3 separate regions of the Homo sapiens genome follow, and all the other regions are reported to be linked to region 1. The links are microRNA targets in miRTarBase. Many come from high-throughput screens and were not tested one by one. Region 1 holds a microRNA gene; each other region holds the end of a gene's coding sequence.
The links. The annotated mature microRNA hsa-miR-191-3p reads GCUGCGCUUGGAUUUCGUCCCC and lies in region 1 at 1,245-1,266, opposite strand. An mRNA with a match to its seed (bases 2 to 7 or 8) in the 3' UTR can be bound and repressed. Matches are read on the target gene's strand: a 7mer-m8 pairs with bases 2 to 8, a 7mer-A1 pairs with bases 2 to 7 and ends in A, and an 8mer does both.

Region 2: the mRNA of IFNK is a reported target of hsa-miR-191-3p. Seed matches in the 3' UTR shown: 7mer-m8 at 2,111-2,117.
Region 3: the mRNA of MAP7D1 is a reported target of hsa-miR-191-3p. Seed matches in the 3' UTR shown: 7mer-A1 at 3,203-3,209.

What each region holds. Positions count from the first base shown.
Region 1 is chr3:49,019,387-49,023,542 of GRCh38, forward strand. It overlaps MIR191 (microRNA 191), which reads right to left and starts at 1,323; the gene lies at 1,232-1,323. It overlaps NDUFAF3 (NADH:ubiquinone oxidoreductase complex assembly factor 3), which reads left to right and starts at 2,735. Exons shown (of 5, transcript NM_199069.2): 1 at 2,735-2,835; 2 at 2,960-3,152; 3 at 3,316-3,382; 4 at 3,490-3,590; 5 at 3,670-4,109. The coding sequence starts at 2,759. The coding sequence ends at 3,786. MIR425 (microRNA 425) reads right to left here and starts at 848; the gene lies at 762-848. It also overlaps a transcript of DALRD3 not described here. RefSeq lists an enhancer at 1,822-2,591 and silencers at 2,107-2,309, 2,346-2,535, 2,756-2,855, 2,896-3,015, 3,076-3,125.
Region 2 is chr9:27,524,289-27,528,288 of GRCh38, reverse strand. IFNK (interferon kappa) reads right to left here and starts at 3,999. Exons shown (of 2, transcript NM_020124.3): 1 at 3,328-3,999; 2 at 1,791-2,282. The coding sequence starts at 3,952. The coding sequence ends at 3,329. All of the region lies in intron 1 of MOB3B (MOB kinase activator 3B), which reads left to right.
Region 3 is chr1:36,179,521-36,183,676 of GRCh38, reverse strand. It overlaps MAP7D1 (MAP7 domain containing 1), which reads right to left. Exons shown (of 17, transcript NM_001388490.1): 14 at 4,120-4,156; 15 at 3,921-4,011; 16 at 3,610-3,803; 17 at 2,828-3,429. The coding sequence ends at 3,419. Among named protein-coding and RNA genes, the nearest start is that of MAP7D1, 25 kb to the right of the region's middle.

The DNA.
Region 1 (4,156 bases):
CCAATAAATAAGCACTCTGATACAGTTGGCGGTTTTCTTCTCTTGATACCTGAGAAATCACAACCATCATGATGGCTTCCAGAATTACCAGACTTTTTTTTTTTTTTTTTGAGACGGAGTTTCGCTCCTGTTGCCCAGGCTGGAGTACAGTGGTGTGATCTTGGCTCACCGCAACCTCCCCCTCCCGGGTTCAAGTGATTATCCTGCCTCAGTCTCCCAAGTAGCTGGGATTACAGGCACGCGCCACCACGCCCGGCTACTTTTGTATTTTTAATAGAGACGGGGTTTCTCCATGTTTGTCAAGCCTCGAACTCCCGACCTCAGGTGATCCGCCTGCCTCGGCCTCCCAAAGTGCTGGGATTACAGGCGTGAGCCACCGCGCCCGGCTCAGAATGACCAGCTTTTAATGTGACTCCTTTAACCTGGTGTGCTTTAACAACGATCCTTAAAGCTTCCTGTTTTAGGCAACAGCCATTTACGGGCCAACCAAATAATGCGACCATAATAGAAAATAGGCCTCAGTTGGAGTATCTTGCTCCTCTACCAATAGGAAAGGTCTTTTTCTTTCTCCCACAAAGGTTCCCAAATGTCTTCATTTCACTGTAACTTACTCACCCCCCACCCCACCCCCATTCCTTTTAATAGAGAAGCTAACTCAGTAGAGAGAGTTGGGAAATCCGGAGAGCAGGGAAACCCAGGGGCAGGAAAAGCTTGGCAAGGCCCCTTTCTGGGCCAGGGCTGAGGCCCTGCTGGGAGGCGCCGAAAGAGCACTGGGCGGACACGACATTCCCGATGGCTTCTCGGGTGCCCACTCAACGGGAGTGATCGTGTCATTCCAAAGCGCTTTCCATTCTGAAGGTGCATGACCTGGAGACAACTGCTTAGCAGGGTTGGGAACCCTCAGTCAAACTGAGGACTTCAGATACTCTCATCCACGAAGACGGTTGGGGTGGTTTTTCCCCAGGAAGTAAGAGGGCTATCTTTAGCGAGATGCGGGCTGAGGCAGCCCTGGGGGAGTCACTACCATTGCAGCCCTACCCAGAGGTCCTGGGTCCACCCTCCCTCGCCAATCCTCCCCAGGGTTCCAGAGATGGCCACCAGCCTCGGCTCTCCCACGTCTACACCCATCACCTCCAGCCTGAGGGCGCAACTGAGAGGAACTGAGACCCAAGCAGCTCAGTAAAGTATGTCTGGGGGTCAGGGGCACCCCATCTGGGCCAGGGCGCTGCTCAGGCAGGAGAGCAGGGGACGAAATCCAAGCGCAGCTGGAATGCTCTGGAGACAACAGCTGCTTTTGGGATTCCGTTGCCCGCTGTCCAGCCGTTGGCGGGGGGCGGGGGAGCTCCTGCCCCCAGGTCACTCGCCCTGGGGCCACATCAGAACCCGCCCATCCCCAGTCCCAGGAGGAAGACCCGGGAGTAGGTTGTGAAACGGAGTCTAGAGGGAACAAGACGCTCACCTGGGCCACAGAACAATAGAAGGGGAGGTGGGGGCCTCCCCTGGGACCGGGTCCCGATCCGGATTAGATCCGTGGGGCAGGATTAGCCCTGTTGGTCCCACGAAGCCTGGGCCACTGGTGCGGTGACGGTGGTGGGGCGGGCTTCGGAATCCGTCAGGAGGGAAGCGCGCCCGTGGGGCCGGAGAGGAAGTAAACCCGCGCGTCCACCTCGGGGACACCCCCGCGCTCGGTGGCCTTTGTCCGGTGACGCTGCCAGCGCCCGGAGCACCAGGGGCCGAAGGGGTCCACAGAGCAGCCGCGGGACCCCCGGAAACCCATTGCGACCGGCCCCAGGAGACCCACCACCAGGCTCCCACTGTGCCGAGCTTCCCGCTCGCCCGGCCCCGCGGGTAGCGAAAGCGACAATGTTCCCCTGAGGCCACGACAGAGCCGGCGTGCCGAGATGCCCAAACCCCGCGCGGGGGCCAGCGACTCTCGCGCCAGTAGGCCCTTGACTTGGATCAAGACGGGGGACGGGGGACTCCCAGGACGCGAGCAGAGTGAACGAGGACAAGGTGATGCTCCACGCGCTTCTACTTCAAGTCTGGTCCGGTTCGGCCTGGTCTGGGCCAGCCGAACAGCCACCCAAACACTATCACAGCTTGCCCTTCCGCTTGCTCTGGCTGCCTGCAGACTTGGAGCCATTTTAAGGAGAAACCACCTGGCCACGCCCCCTAGAGAACCCGAGAAGCCAATCCACGCTCGGCCACGCCCCTCTCCGCGCGCTGCGGAGAGGCCAACGGTCGCGCGGGTGACGGTTAGGGCGGGGCGTGCTTCCGCGTCTAGCCGGAGAAACTTGAGCCGGCTGCCCCGCCCACGGTGCCCGAAGCCCCAAAGGCTGGAATTAGGGGCTAGAAGTCTGGCACCCACCGCCTGGCCAGGTGTTCGGGACGCGACCAGGTGGGCGGTCGCCCCGCCCCGGGAGCGCGGCTTAATAGCTGAGAGCCCGGGGGCCAGGCCGCGGCTGCGGCCCAGGCAACGCCCTGAGGGTGGCCACGCTGCCAGGTGTTCCACTCCCCCGGGACTATGGGCAAGGGCCCGGGGCGGGGAGGGCGGCAGGTGCTGACACTGGAGCTGCGCCGGAGGTCGGGGAACTCGGCCTCCTAAGACTGAGGACACTCGCCTGCTGGGCCGGTCGAGCTGTGCGGTGCCCTCCGGGACGCAGGGGGCGCTGCAGCCACGCTGGGTCAGGCTCCGCAGGGCCCTCCCAACCCGGGGACTAACGGCGCCGGTGACGACTTCGCCGCGCGTTGGTCAGCCATGGCCACCGCTCTCGCGCTACGTAGCTTGTACCGAGCGCGACCCTCGCTGCGCTGTCCGCCCGTTGAGCTTCCCTGGTGAGCTTGGACCCCGCGCCCTCGACCATCCAGCCCCCTAGGGCCGGCGACTGCCAGCCCAGCACCTTCCGGCCTCTCGGGCTGCCCGGCCCGGCCCCGCGCCCCTGACCCTTTCCCTCCGCAGGGCCCCGCGGCGAGGGCATCGGCTCTCGCCGGCGGATGACGAGCTGTATCAGCGGACGCGCATCTCTCTGCTGCAACGCGAGGCCGCTCAGGCAATGTACATCGACAGCTACAACAGCCGCGGCTTCATGATAAACGGAAACCGCGTGCTCGGCCCCTGCGCTCTGCTCCCGCACTCGGTGGTGCAGTGGAACGTGAGTCCTGGCCCGCAGTGTGGAAACTGAGGCCCAGAGTCACAGGCCCTCACCCTGCTTGGTCCCTGCAAACTTGGCTTTCCTCTGTCTCCTCCTGCAGTGGATGGAGATGGGGAGAGGCTGCGTGGATTTGTCGTATTAAATGTGCCTCCTCCCTGCACAGGTGGGATCCCACCAGGACATCACCGAAGACAGCTTTTCCCTCTTCTGGTTGCTGGAGCCCCGGATAGGTACTGGGGAAGGGGAGGGAGAACAGAGGTGTTCTGGGCCCCAGAAGGCGACCCCCACTGCAGCCTCTCAACAGAACTGTAGACTAGCCACACCCACCCTTCCCTAGAGATCGTGGTGGTGGGGACTGGAGACCGGACCGAGAGGCTGCAGTCCCAGGTGCTTCAAGCCATGAGGCAGCGGGGCATTGCTGTGGAAGTGCAGGACACGGTGAGTCCCGGGACTGGGGCATGCTGCGGGGAGCACAGGCCTGGCGCTAGACAGGCTGATGCTGGCCTTTTCTTTGCAGCCCAATGCCTGTGCCACCTTCAACTTCCTGTGTCATGAAGGCCGAGTAACTGGAGCTGCTCTCATCCCTCCACCAGGAGGGACTTCACTTACATCTTTGGGCCAAGCTGCTCAATGAACCGCCAGGAACTGACCTGCTGACTGCACTCTGCCAGGCTTCCCAATGCTTTCACTCTTATCTACCCTTTGGCACTTATCTTGCTTATCAACATAATAATTTATACACTTCTCCCATTTTGTATCAGGTGTGTTGCTGGCCAGGAGCTGATGGCTCACTGGGCTCTTGGAGGGGAATGTGAAGAAACCAAGGAGTCACTTTTTCATCTAGATTACTTAGGATTCCTTGACTTTTCAGAAGTCGGGAAGCAGTATGTTTGCCTGTTGTAGACCTACTTGCTCACATGCAGATTTGAGAGGACCTCAACGGCTTTTCTCACAAAATCGCTGATTGTTTTTCTTTTTTTGAGATGGAGTCTCGCTGTCGCCCG
Region 2 (4,000 bases), not on the chromosome of region 1:
GGGAGGGGATCGGGGCACCTTTGGTAGGCGGAAAGCTGAGATTCTGGGGTCCACAAGTTTCCAAGGGCGGGAGGGCAGGCTAGTCGCCAAAAAGAGAACGAAGATGCAAATAACGAGGAAGCCTTATGACGTTGCCTGGAAATAGTAGTGTGGTGGTTCACTCCGGAATGAACGTGGAGTTCTGGCTTTGAGTACCGCTCCAAGTTTAAATCCCAAGTCCCCTTTCTTCATTGTAGAAAAAGAGGACTCAGACGACGCAACACAGATACGGCTAGAGCACAGTTCCTGCTTCCACGTCCCAGAGAACAAGTGGCTTAGGATGGTCCCGAGTTCCCCTGTGGGTGCGCTTGTTGGGTTGCAGGCGGCCCTGTTTCCCTGCACAAGTCAGATGCTTACACATTGTGTTCATTCTTAGTGTGGATTATTGATTAAAGAACTGGGGCAAAAGCAAAGTAGCTACTCTGAGAAGTCAGGGTCCCCAGATGGTGCCCAGCGAGTTGTCTTGCCTCTGAGGGGAGGCTGACTGAGACTGTGCACCTGTTAGAACCTATGCTACCCCATAGCCTTGCAGTTGACTTGCTGTTGCCAGCTTTTCCTGTGGGATCCCCAATGAGTCCCTCTTCCAAGGAAGCTCAATTACACTTTTGATTCCTCCTCAACCCAGGGGAAGAAAGAGGCTTCTGTAGGAACATTATGATCTATGTACCCACTCAGACATTGTCAGTGGATACCAGAAGCTTGGCTCTGCACAGCTCTGAGAGTTTTCCCTTTGCGAACTCAACAGAACTTTTGAGTTTCCATTTAACATAAAAGAAGTGAGACTGCTAAGCCAGGAATGCGACACATAGAGCACTTTCTCTAGTGATTTCTGGGTATTATATCTCTTTACCTTCCCAACGGTGGAACCAGGAAAAGAAAAAAAAGCAACATCTTTGAAGTACTGCAAGGCACTTTACAAACATTTCATTATGAAAATGATCCCCAAGGAAGGATTCCTTTGAAATTTAGCAGCAGCAACCCAGAAGCAACAAAAAAGACCAAAGTTACTCAAGAAGTACCCAAAGGCATCATTAACAAAATAAAAGAGCATTTCTTGTCTTGGCCTACCCCGCTAAGGAAAACAGGGTAATTATAGTGGAAGTTAAGCTTGTACAGTTTCTTTTAGAATTAAAAATCTTCCCAAAAAAATCACTATAGGAAAAAATAGAAAATATCGAATGGTGAAAATGAATGTAAAAGGGGGAGATATCATAAACCTATTTCCTTGGAATAAATTTCGGAAGACGTGATACCTAGGTCACAGGGGCTGATGCGTTCTTTAGGATATTGAAGATTGCCATATTTCCCTGTAGAAAACATGTCCCAGTTTACTTTCCTCCCAGTAATGCACAAAGGCTCCTATACCTTACACTCCACTCACATTTTATATTGTCATTCTTTTTCTTTTCTGTCATACTGATGGGAGTATCTTGTCATCTTATTTTGCATTTAAAAATCAAGTTAGATTAAACATTTTTCACATTGTCTGTAGTATTTCTTCCTTTGTGATGATGTCAGTTTGTGCCCTTGCCTTTTTTCCAGTGGAGATGTTATCCTTTTTCTTTTGATTAGATGTGATCTTTAAAAAAGCATACTGTTCTGACTTCTACCCCTGCCACACATTCAGAAAATGTATATTAACTGAAAGCTCAGCTCGGCTTTCTCAGCCATTCTCTTTCCTCCAGGATAGCAAACACTTGGCAGGACTGCAACCATAAATGACTAAAGTAATTGACCTCATTCCAGTAAAGTTATTAGAGAGAACAGGCAAAGACTTTATTAGAGAAAGTCATGAAAAATAGCAAGTATATATTTTATGCTCAGTAGCTTGCATGTCCTAACTCCTTTACAAGCTTGTAGTACTATTTTTAATCTGGAACAACTCTGCTGATAGTTATTTTTACTAAATGGTTTGCACTAACTCATTTTATTGTCTGATCCTTCTGCTGATAGCCTGCATATACCATGATCCACAATTTGTTCTTGTTCTTTTAAACATCTCTTCTAACTTCTTGGCTGAAATTTGCCTCACTTTTATCATAAGACTTTCTTTGGCTATAACATTTGGGCCCTGCGCTTGGAATAATCTTGAATCTGAACAGTTTGGCAGCATGCTGTTAGTGGCATGAGCAGGAAATGGCTTCCAAGGGCAGAACCAGGTACATTTCAGATATATTTCACCCTTTTTTGGTGCATTTGCGTAGCCACAATCTCTGTTAATTCTTGCTTGAAGGTAGATGATTCTGAAATGGGGTAGATAGAGGTGCGAGAGGAAGAGAAAATCCATGTCAGCTAGGTGGTGAATTAATATAGATGAAGGGCCGTGCTAGAAAAGTAAATAATCTAGGTAGTCTGGCTGCAAAGTAACTTTTAAAAAGATAAAAGATATTAAAGTATTATGTATTATTGGAATAGCTAGTTAAATTAACTCACAGAATGTAGTCTTCTAACTAGGAAAATCTAATGTAAAATTGTTCCATATTATGACTCTGGACATTTTATTTCAGGCACATGAAAAACAGTAAAAGACAGATTCTGTACCATACTTTTCCACAGCATTTTCCATGCCTTTAGATGTAGGAATCAAACAATATACATCAGGAATGAAGAGTGTGCTACATTAGAATCACAGACTCTCAAAGGTTAAATGAAAGCTTAATGGTCGTCTAATTCAACCATCCATCCAATTTCACTATGGATCTTCACTCTTAAAGTAATGAAATACTATTCCACAAGCATCAATTCAAACAAACCAAGCTGAGAAGGAAATGGGCCAGAAATGTCAACCTTTTTCCCCCCGAGCAGGAGGGGGAAAATGCAAGAGTATTGACTCTAGGGAGCATGTATAAGCTCTTTTAATGTGCTGAATTTTCATAGGATAAGCAACCTTGGCAGCAAAACAGTTAAGTCATTGAAATGTTACCATTTTGCAACATTCTCTGCTCCCTATCCTCTAGCCATTGTCTTGGTGAAGTCCACAGGTGGTATATATAGCAAAGCTCTTTCAAAATGGCCACAGAAAAGAGCAAGAGAGAATAGAAGAAGACGGAGAGGGAATCTTATTCCTTTAAAAATGTCTTAAAGACTTTCTAAGGAGACTCTTGGTCACCCTGAGGATGGTTGGCATTACCTCTCCTTAGAGAGGTGAGTGTCCCTGATGTTCCGAGGCTACCAGTCCAACTGAGGACAGGCTTACAGGACAGCACAACAATCCTTAAAAAGAAGTTGGAGGAGGAGAAGGAGAAAGAGATTTCGGAGGGAAAAGGAATTTTAATTCCAAAAATATACCTTATTTCCTCCTGAATAGAGCTGTAAATTTGTAAAAGTAATACAAACATCTTCTGATTTCCACTCGGACAATCTCCCAGGCACAGTCACTGTATTTCTTTTCTTTCAGGAAATTGTCTATCCTGTGGAAATATCTCCTCAGTTCCAGGCTGCTCAGCTGGGGGACCCTGGCTTCTGAGGGTTTCATCTCATTCTCTTTCATTTCTTTCATGTCTTCATTTTCATTCTTGTCTTCCTCCAAGCATTGGTTCAGGTACTCTGCTTGCTGATCAAGTCCTATTTGGATTTGTTTGAGGTGTCTCTCTTTCCAATATTTGAAGGTGTGTTGGCTGAAGATGTTGAAGGCCTGTAGGGACATTTCATAGAAGGCCTTCTTGATGTCCCTCTTCATAGGTTGGGTGTATTGCAGAAACTCTTGGGGCAACTCAAAAGCTATGTTTTCTCGTAGACATTCTACAGGAAATGAATTGCTCATACTACTCAGATGTCTCAGATTTTGCCAGGTGACTCTTCTCAGGTGAACGTTCAGTAAGTTACAGTCCAGGGATAGGGTGCCAGCAATGAATATACCCATAAGGATCTCAAGCCACAAACACTTTTGAATCATATCAGGTTTGGTGCTCATTTTTTTTGCAAGCTAAAAAATCCAGAAGATGTGTATATGACAATGATG
Region 3 (4,156 bases), not on the chromosome of region 1:
CTCAACTGACATTTCTTAATTCAACAAATATTGAGTGCCTGTTCCACCAGGCTCTGGGGTGAGCAAAAACAGACTCCTTCAGCTCTGCTTAGTCCTCTAGATACTTGAACATACCTCCTTCCCATCCACAGCCTGTGCATGTGGTTTCCCTTGTTCTGGAATCCAGTCCTTTCCCTCTCCTTCTTTCTCTACCTTCCTGACTTTGCCCAGTCAACACCTACTCACCCATCAGATCTGATTACACACCATTCATTCAGGGATATCTTATCCGACCTGAAGCTAGTTTAGGTCCCCCTGTATACGCTCTTAACTGCTCCCTATGTTTGACTTCACAGCACTCACCACATTTTCTTTTTTAACATTTGTTCCTGTGGTGATATGGTGATTTGGTTTATACCCATCTTCCTTGCCAGGAAGCGCCAGGAGCTTCTACGTCTGGTTTTTGCTTACCATCGTTTCCCTCCGGTGCTCAGCTGGTGCTCCACAGGCAATTTACTGATTGACTAAATGAATGAGTAAACAATTCCCCCATAAGAGTATTCAGAGTTCTGCCCTTCAGGGAAATGTTGGCACCTCTGCCTCACTGTACATAGGAGCTGGTGGGTGATGGCTGAGGAGGGGAGGCCGGGAGGGGCATACATATAGGAGCTCTCACCAAGCAGAGAGCTGAATGAGTGTGCTAGTCCCTTCCTGCCCCTTACTGTCCCTAGAGCGCTGTGACTTAGCCCTGCCCACCTCTCCAACCCCATCTAGCACCTCTCCCCTTTGATGCTCCAGCAAGAGGAGCTCCTGCTCCTTTGTCCCTGGAATTCCCAGCCTCCTGCATACTGACCCCTCCATCTGCAACTTGCCTCCTCCTTCCTTTCACAAGGCTGGCTCCTCCCTATCCTTCTTCAGGTCCAGTTTAAATGCTGCTTTTTTTTTTTTTTTTTTTGAGATGGAGTCTCGCACTGTTACCTGGGCTGGAGTGCAGTAACAAGATCTCGGCTCACTGCAACCTCCGCCTCCCAGGTTCAAGCGATTCTCCTGCCTCAGCCTATCGAGTAGCTGGGACTACAAGCGCGCACCACCACACCCGGCTAATTTTTTGTATTTTTAGTAGAGATGAGGTTTCACCATGTTGGCCAGGTTGGTCTTGAACTCTTGACCTCGTGATCCGCCTGCTTCAGCCTCCCAAAGTGCTGGGATTACAGGCATGAGCCAGCATGCCCGGCCTAAATGCTGCTGCTTTTTTTTTTTTTTTTTGAGACAGAGTCTCCCTCTGTCACCCAGGCTGGAGTGCAGTGGCGCGATCTCGGCTCACTGCAACCTCCGCCTCTCAGGTTCATGCCATTCTCCTGCCTCAGCCTCCCGAGTAGCTGGGACTACAGGTGCCCGCCACCACGCCCGGAGAATTTTTTGTATTTTTAGTAGAGACGGGGTTTCACTGTGTTAGCCAGGATGGTCTCGATCTCCTGACCTCGTGATCTGCCCACCTTGGCCTCCCAAAGTGCTGGGATTACAGGCGTGAGCCACCACGCCTGTCCTGTTTTTGTTTTTTGAGATAGGGTCTCACTCTGTTGCCCAGGCTGGAGTGCAGTGACACAATCAGGGCTCACTGCAGCCTTGACTTCCCAGGCTCAGATGATTCTCCCACTTCAGCCTCCTGAGTAGGTGGGATTACAGGCATGTGCCACCACGCCTGGCTAATTTTTGAATTTTTGTTAGAGATGGGGTTTCACCATGTTGCCTAGGCTGGTCTTAGAACTCTTGGGCTGAAGCAATCTACTGGCCTTGGCCTCCCAAAGTGTTGGCATTACAGGCATGAGTGCAGTGTTTTTTATACCTAATCTCAGATGTGACACACCATCACTTCTGCCGTATTCTATTGGCCACTCAACCCAACCCTGATACAACATAGGAAGGAACTACACAAGGGTGTGAATACTAGGAGGTAGGGGACATCATCGAGAGGTCATTACAGAGGCTGACGACCACATTGTCAAAAATGAGGATGCCGGTGGCTCACGCCTGTAATCCCAGCACTTTGGGAGGGCGAGGCAGGCGGATCACAAGGTCAGGAGATAAGAGAACATCCTGGCTAACACGGTGAAACCCCATCTCTACTAAAAATACAAAAATTAGGCAGGCGTGGTGGCTGGCGCCTGTAGTTCCAGCTACTCGGGAGGCTGAGGTAGGGGAATCGCTTGAACCTGGGAGGTGGACGTTGCAGTGAGCTGAGATTGCACCACTGCCCTCCAGCCTGGGCGATGGAGCCAGACTCCGTCTCAAAAAAAAAAAAATGAGGATACCCTTCCTGAAGCCCCCAGGAGGCTTCCCTTCATGTCTACTGGCTGAAACTGTGTCACATGTCCATGCCTACACCAGTCAATCATGAGGGGTTTGGGACCATTGTTTTTGATCCCAGTCACAATCACGATTCACCCCTGCGGCTAAGATCCACCTCCACTGAAGCACAGGGTGCCATCTAAAAGAAAGATGGCTACCTGAATAGAGATTATTTGGAATGAGGAAGGGGCAATGGGAATAGATGTTGAGTGGGCAGCCCACAGTGTCCACGACACTCACCCACTAGACTATAAACTGCACAAGGACAGAGATTACATCCTTTCTGACTATTGCATCCCCAGTGCATAGCCTACTGCCTGACACAGAGTAGATGCAACAGTATTTGTTGAATAAATAAATGAATGAATTCATGACTAAACTGGAAGACCATAGGGCAGGAGTTCAGGACTAATACCACCAGCCCGAGGCTTCTTCAGTTCTTAGAACTCAGGAGGCCATCTGCTCCCACCTCCGCCACCAGCTCCAAGAACAGGCAGGATTGGCAGAATTATTCTTTATTTCTGGAGACATTTAATCAGATGCAGTAACACTGATTCCAGGCGAGGGCAGGGGGCATGGGTACCCCTGAAGCAACCAGTATCCTGTGGCCCAAGGTGTCCCCCATCCCCAGACCTGGGATCCCCCTCAGTTACAGTTAAATAGAGAGAGGAAGATCTCCCCAGGGGGCTTTGGGGGGAGGGTCTGCCTCCTGCACCCACCCTCTCCACGCAGAGGAGTCTGAGCACAAGCTATTTACAGTATTCACATCCACTGTACCCCACCAAATCAAGGCAAATACTACAGGTGGCCCCTCCCCAAGGGAAGAGGCCAGAGAGGCTGTGAGTGTATATGTGTGTATGGGGGAGAAGGGATGTCTGCGCGTGCGAGCACACGAATGCACTGAGGGGCAGATCTGGCTCCGGCCAAAGAGACATCAGTCTATAAGGTGCAGATTAAAAACAACAGAGAGGACCCACCCCCAGGGGCCCAGGCCACTTCCATCTTTGTTCTGTCTTTTTCTCCTCCAGACATCCTGGTAGGTGATGCAGAGGAGCCCTCACAACTGTGCCCGGATCCAAGGCAAACCCTCTTAAAGGACTTCTGGGGAAAAACAGGAAGGGAAACAGTCAGGGCAAACAGCACTCAAGCCCAGATAGCTGGGGGTCTTCAGGGTGGAGCAGGAGAGGGTGCCTGGCAGAGCCAGAAGAGAAGGCAGGGCTGAGGAGTACAGGGAAGGCTGCTGGGAGGAATGGAGCTGGGTCCAGGAATCAGGAGATCTACCTGTGACCTGCGGGGACTGCACCACAGCTTTCTTGAGGAAGGCTTCTGCCTCTGCAAAGGGCAGGAGTGTCTCTGGTGTTCGGCTCAGACTCTTGTCCCCAGAGGGTCCGTTGGTGGAGAAGCCATTCTCCTGGTGTGCTGGGAGAGGCTGCAGGCCATTCACCAGGGACGCTGGCAACTCCTTGCTTGGGAGACTGTGGATGCAGAGGCCAAGGCTCAGCACCTCACCTCCCAGGAAAGCCCAGGCCACCCCGCAGCTCCAGCTGCAGTCTGCCTCCCTGCTCAGGGACCCTGGGATTGGAAGCTGGTACCTCCACTGAGGCTCCTGTGGGATGGGCTCCTCTTTCTGCACAGCCTCCTTCTGCAGCCCTGGGGACCGAGCCTCCACAGCTTTCACAGGCTCTGTCACAGGGAAAGAGGGGCCATCAGCCAGGGGCTGGCAAGAGAGGTGAGGATGGAGGAGGAGGAGGATGGCAAAGGGAAGGGAGGCGAGAGGAATGGGGGCTTTACCTGGGCTGGAACCGTTGGCGTTGGCCTCCTTGCTGTC